2 separate regions of the Homo sapiens genome follow, and region 1 is reported to be linked to region 2. Evidence: microRNA targets listed by miRTarBase, many of them from high-throughput screens and not tested one by one. Region 2 holds a microRNA gene; the other region holds the end of a gene's coding sequence.

Region 1 (3,128 bases), not on the chromosome of region 2:
AACTTTTTATAGTAATTGCATGTTTTTTAAGATCCTCATTGCCCTATTATACCCAATCTGTTTGATATGTAAGTTTAATATGTGGTTAATGCAAAACAGTTAGCTAATATACTATTTATTTTAAGCAAATGTATCACATAATTATCACAGACTCAGAAAATGGTTCTTCTCTGTGCTGTGTTGCCATAGAACCCTTTTTGTGTGTCTCTTTTTTATATATTTCTCACTTAGGCTACAGAGGACAGAAGGGAGAAAGAGGTGAACCTGGAATTGGGCTGCCAGGGAGTCCAGGTCTTCCTGGGACTTCAGGTAAGTGGGATATTGTCTTCACAACACAAGCAAGCCTTTACAAATTAGAACCATGCTTCTCCCCTAGGGTCCTTATATGTCAAGTCGAGTGATCCATGTTGGCTAGAGGGTGGGAGAGAGGAAGGGCCATATGTGATCTGCATTGTAATTTTTTTTTTATGTCGTTAGCTCTGGGTTTGCCAGGCTCACCAGGTGCCCCAGGCCCACAGGGCCCCCCAGGACCCAGTGGAAGATGTAACCCAGAAGATTGCCTCTATCCTGTGTCTCATGCCCATCAGCGCACAGGTGGGAATTGAACACACCTGAAGAAGACTTGGTTCCTGGTAACATTTCCTTGCCACTGGAGCTCTCTTAATACCGTCAAACCCTCATCATCTGTGGGTTGCTTTTTTTTTTTTTTTTTTTTTTTGGGAGTAAGCCAGGCATTAAAAGCAACCGTTTGAATCCTATTCCTATAGCAATTGCAAATCAGCATTTTTTGATTTTTCCCAAATTCATTCCATATGTTTTGCTTTACAATTGCTATGATTTTTACTCAGAGTTTTATATGAAATATGCAAGTAAATCTTATCGTTAGTTCTTCTTCAAAAGGAAATTGCATCTTGTGACTTAGTAGACTGATGATGATATCCATTTTGTAGACTCATCAACATGTGGTTGGCCTTTGATTTCTGAATTTTAAAGTTTCAGACTTATCTTTTCCTTGGTGTTTAAATTTACTATCATTGCTAAACATCTCGTCAACTTTTTTGATATAGTGCATTGCTCCTGTTGAATGTTTTTTGACTACTTTTTATAACTTAAGAATTTTTATACCATCTACATCTATCCTACTTATGCAGAAAAATAGGCAATAAGAACTTCATTTTACAATTTATGTTTTCAAAAAAAAAATGCAGGAAACTGTTTTATCAGGGAGCCCAAACACCCAGCATAGCCAACTACTGAAATGATTTTGTTAATTCTGTATAATGAGCTCAATTCAAAGCAATCACCACTGGCATGAATAAGTACTGCATGAAAAGGGAGTATCAAATTCCAGTTTTGTATGAGTTCTGCAAAAAAAGCCTAATATTCTGTGGTCCCCTCACTCAGTCTCTCATTTGGTAAACAGAAAGCTGTTTTCCCTACAAGGTGCTTGGTGGTGAAGCCACCAAGCTGTCTTTGGTACTCTTAAAGCTTCAGTGGCCTAGCAAGATCTTTGGGCCCTTGTATCCATTATCCTTATGACCTCATCACCCTCAGACTTTAAGACAAGAAGCCACCATCAAAACAAAGGATGGGATACGTATAGAATGGACTCACTTGTCCTAGAAGATGAATGTGTAGTGTCAGCAAATGCATGTTAAGAAGGTGAAGCCCAAAAGCTCTTAAGGAGAATTGTATTTCTCCAGAAGCTGCAGCAAGAGGTACAGCTCAACAAAGGAAAACCACAGGACTGGATATGCAACTAGTGCTCAGACCAAAGAGTTCACACCCACTCTAAAACCATGTCCTCTGAAAAGAAACAAAAATACAGTGATCATCAAATGCCTAAACAGTCTTTCTGTTGGTTAGCTGTACATTCATTGAGGAACTGTTGATTGGCAGGCACTGATTCTCTAGAACACTGGGCATGAGGATGTTGCAGAAATCTAGATGGTGGGTCCCACAGATGTGAGAACATGCTGCAAGAGCCTGCCAGCCACAGCAATCAGGACTCACAGCTCTTCAAGGAGCAGTGCAGATTTCAATTTGGCTAAAACAGGATGATTGCTTTTGTCTGTTTACTGAAAAATGAGTTTAGAAAGGCTAGCCCACTGACATTGGAAAAAGCTGTGAACAGAGTTGTGTCTGAGGAATGTGCCTAATTTAAGGCAGGGTTTGTTCCAATGCATCCGTGATTTGAACCGGTTTTCATTATAGATTAATGAACTGCTGGTCAGGTACTGTCTACAATGGCTGTGCATACCTATAACATTTTAGGTATTTCATATTGAATTATGCTGTATATTTCAATTCCAAGTTTATTTATTTTCCAAGGTTATTTTATTTATTGTAAGCATTTTGACATTGATTTTTTTTTTTTCGTTTTCTTTCTTGTGCAATACCTACAATGGTGCTGTGTTTTAAACTTACACAATTGGGACATACGTATGTGTTTTCTTAGTAAAATGGTAATTTATCCCGAAAAAGTGTACATAGATCTAAAATTTGGTGCTATGTGTATATCTTGAGCTTTTAATTTGTTGAATTTTCTAAACGCTTACAACTTATCTGCCACTCATATTAATTTACTTGAATTTGTCATAAAGCTAAATATTTTATATGTTTTCAAAGATTATTTTTTCATATTAATAGGTTGTTTATCTTTTTGCCTGTTTGCTAATTTAAAAATATTTATTTTATCATTTTAATGTTTTCATGGACTTTTTTGCTGATGGTAATCAACTTTTTTTGTTTTTTGGTTTTTGAGTTGTTCTTGTCATAGACATAAAAAGACAATTCATTTTCTTGTTTTATTAACTCTGTTCATTTTTATTCTACAAAATATGTCATGCATTCTTTCTTATGAATTGTATATTTAGAAATCTTTCTAAATACCATTAAGGCTTGACTGGTTAATTCCTATTTCAAGGATTTGGATTTATTCAGGTAATTTGATGGGATGGGGAAATATAATATTGTGTGATGCATATTACAAAGTGGACTTGTCACAATGACACAAACTCATTTTTTGTAACTGGGAAATATGACTAAATTTGACGTAACTAGAGAAACAAGGCTGTATCCACATGGTACAAGCCTTTCTCACCCTACTCTATTATTTACCTTCAGAT
Region 2 (3,128 bases):
TCGAAAATAAGTCGCTAGAGCCACATCAAGCATGTGCAGGAACTCCTTGGTTATCCTTTTACAAAGTAATTCTTATATTTCTACTCCTGTACTTATGCCAGAGGCACCCTTATGTCCCTTCTATCTCCAGACTAAAAGTCATCCTGAGGGAGAAAATAGGTGAGGGACCCATAGGGATTCATTTCTTTGAAACAAAAAGACCGTTTAACATGAAGAAAGAAATTGAAATTAAATATACATTAAATGAAAGCAAATTTTGAAATGTAATCATTTCTAGAGTAAAAAAAAAAAAAAAACCCAGAAAATTTGAGAAAAACATTACCAAAGTACCTTGTTAGCTATTTTTCCTCTTCAGTAATTGTATCAATTAGAAAAAATATATTTCTTGAAAAAATGAGCTCCTCTAAGTTACTTTTTTTAGTTTTCTTATGTAAAAGAAACTATATAGATTTTTAACATCTCATTTGTTCTACTAAAAATAATTAATATGGAACTCTCCAAGTCACAATAGAAAATGAAAGGATAACTTTACTATATCATCTAAGTGAAAGTAGCTAAATTTCTCCTTGCTGTTTATATTTTAACTAATAATCATGAATATATGAGAATACTTAATGTTTTCTTTATACACATTTTGGGGTGATCAGAAGGGTAATTTTTAAAGTAAGTTGTTTTGACAAAAGAAAACTTAGGGAATCTTTTATAATAAAATATTTTGCTAAAGAGAACTTGAGTCAATTTTTGAATTGTTGCAAAATGTATAACTTAGAAAAGAATTTGTTCAGGAACCACTGTAACTTTAAAGGAGGACAAAAGAGATTATGTTTATTTTTCACAAACCCTGTAGAAGAGATGTTTTCATTATATAGAATTGTTTCGGAATAGAAATTAATGGGGGTTAAGAAAATTAGGGATGAGGCAATAACATTTTTCCAGAACTTTCTTTAAGGGGCCGACCTCTAAAGTTCAGCACAGATCACATTGCAATCCAGACTTGCTCTATTATTTTCTCTATTAGGATTTCATTCAGCTTGAGGGTTTTCTTCCCTCCCACCTTCCTCCCCCTCTCCCACCCTCTTTCACCTCCAGGACAGCTGGAAACTGACCAAAGAAAACTTCTGCCTTCGTTTACAAATTCCTTTTTTATCAGTGGGTTTCTAGACAAAGTGCCTTATTTTAAATGCTCAGAGAAGTGGAAGCATTGTAAGCTATAGGCAAGAGGGCTCAGCTGAGCAGCAATTATTAACCACTCTTTGATTTAAAAAAAATGTAAAACAGATATTTACAGGGGTATCTAAAGATAGAGGTTTTTATTCCCTGATTTACTCAGTTGCTGACTCAATAAGTTGTGGGTCGGTGCTCTTCTCTGGGCAAATCCCATCTGCATTGTCTGGTAGGCAAGACTTGGCAGGTTCTTCTTTTATTGTTAGGTACTATTATTCCTGTTGTTTATATTACAGAAGGAAATCTTCAGAAAAGCACTATCCATATAGCATTTAAAAACCAGCAAGTATTCTTTACTTTGGGGAAAAATGACTTCAGTCCTGGGATGTTAAAAGTTATACATACAGCCTTCATCCATATAAGTTTTTAAATCTTTGAATTATTATTAAACAATTCAAAAGTAGCCTCATTAAACTATTCTTAAGTGTCTGGAATGAGTTTTTTCATATTTCATTTTGAAGTGGGAAAACCTTTAAGAAAACACTTGAATTATCAATCTTCAGAAATAAAAAAAAAAAAAACAGTAAATCGCTATATACCACACACTTTTGCTCTTTTAAAATTAAATACATCTCTACCCATCACACATGTACCTCTGTTTCCCTTGCATGTTAACACAAATCATGGGCTCCCCACCTAGGTTCCCTTGGTCACAGACCAGGTGAGCAGTCAAGAAGGCCTTACCCGCTGGTCTTCCCTTCGGCAGTCTTTTCTCAGCAGTGTCCCCGAGGGCTTCTTGGTCCCTAGTGTGCAAAACCTGTGAAGAAAAACACTGGATATGAGATTCAAAAAAGGAGCAAACAAATGTCTTCTCCTTGGAAACAGCCCATTTTGTCCCCAGCGGTCCATGGCGTTGCTCTCCCTTGCCCAGTCTAACCAATGTGCAGACTACTGTACAACGGCATTGTCCTGAACAGGTAGTCTGAACACTGGGGCGACGGAGCAGGATCTCCAGAAGCTTCCTTCTATGTACTTAAAATCCTCTCCCGGTCCTCAGGAAAAGCCTCCCTTCCTGCACCAGGGGTTGCATTCAGCTTTCCCCCCTGAATTCTGCTGCGCTGACTGAGACACACTCAAGGGCTGTGATTTCCAGTCTTGACGTGGCACATTTGCTGCAGACTGGGGAACTGGCAATGAATTTAGGACCAGGAAAAGGGGGAGGGCTGGGCTGGAGAGTCCATATATGGGATGATGTCACCCTGGGGAGGTTTGGGTATGCGCTGTGCCGCTGGAGAGACCGCTAGAATCGCCTGCTCTCAGACATGGGTCTGTGCATAAAATGGTACCAGATGTTTTAGTGTAACGTTAAGCAGTCATTTCATCTTCAGGCCAGATTTTTTTCCTCAACTGGGCAGGAAGTGGGCCCCAGTATGGAAAAGCTGTAAAAAAAAAAGAGTCAAGATGTACAGTTCGGCTGTGGCCAACTGAAAGTGAGTTAGTGTAGAAGTACAAATTTACTGTCTGACCCAGGCTAGAGAAGTAATTTGAAGATAGAGGGTAGATGAAATAGTAAACAGAAAGTTGAACACTGGAAGGCAGAGCTCATTTGGAAACCTTTTTGAGCTTTCCTGTGGCACTTTATTTTCTGGTATTTCACTCGTCAAAAAGGGCAGATAAGTTTCTGTCTGTCTGTCTGTCTGTCTGTCTCTCTCTCTCTCTCTCTCTCCCCCTCTTCCCCTCTCCCTCCCTCTCTCTCCCTCCCTCCCTCCTTCCCTCCCGCTCTCTCTCTCTTTCTCTCCTTCTCTCTCTCCCTCCTTCTCCTGTCTGTTGAATCTGTCAGCAGCTTGCAGGCTGCTCTAGACTTGAACAGTAATTATAGCAACTTCCTGAAAGTGAAGCCCCCATGAAAAGTCTGGAGAAATGTTCTTTGTCATGGCCTCTACATGAGTAATTAGTTCCACATG

Evidence for each region. Region 2 holds the annotated microRNA hsa-miR-199a-5p (CCCAGUGUUCAGACUACCUGUUC, at 2,136-2,158, opposite strand). A microRNA usually pairs through its seed, bases 2 to 8, with sites in the 3' UTR of a target mRNA and lowers its output. Matches are read on the target gene's strand: a 7mer-m8 pairs with bases 2 to 8, a 7mer-A1 pairs with bases 2 to 7 and ends in A, and an 8mer does both.
Region 1: miRTarBase lists COL19A1 as a target of hsa-miR-199a-5p. Seed matches in the 3' UTR shown: 7mer-A1 at 648-654 and 7mer-m8 at 1,916-1,922.

What each region holds. Positions count from the first base shown.
Region 1 is chr6:70,206,670-70,209,797 of GRCh38, forward strand. COL19A1 (collagen type XIX alpha 1 chain) reads left to right here. Exons shown (of 51, transcript NM_001858.6): 50 at 232-309; 51 at 478-3,128. The coding sequence ends at 605. Among named protein-coding and RNA genes, the nearest start is that of COL9A1, 95 kb to the right of the region's middle.
Region 2 is chr1:172,142,457-172,145,584 of GRCh38, forward strand. It overlaps MIR199A2 (microRNA 199a-2), which reads right to left and starts at 2,188; the gene lies at 2,079-2,188. The region is part of intron 14 of DNM3 (dynamin 3); the gene reads left to right. DNM3OS (DNM3 opposite strand/antisense RNA) reads right to left here and starts at 2,379. Exons shown (of 4, transcript NR_103486.1): 1 at 2,198-2,379; 2 at 1,909-1,981.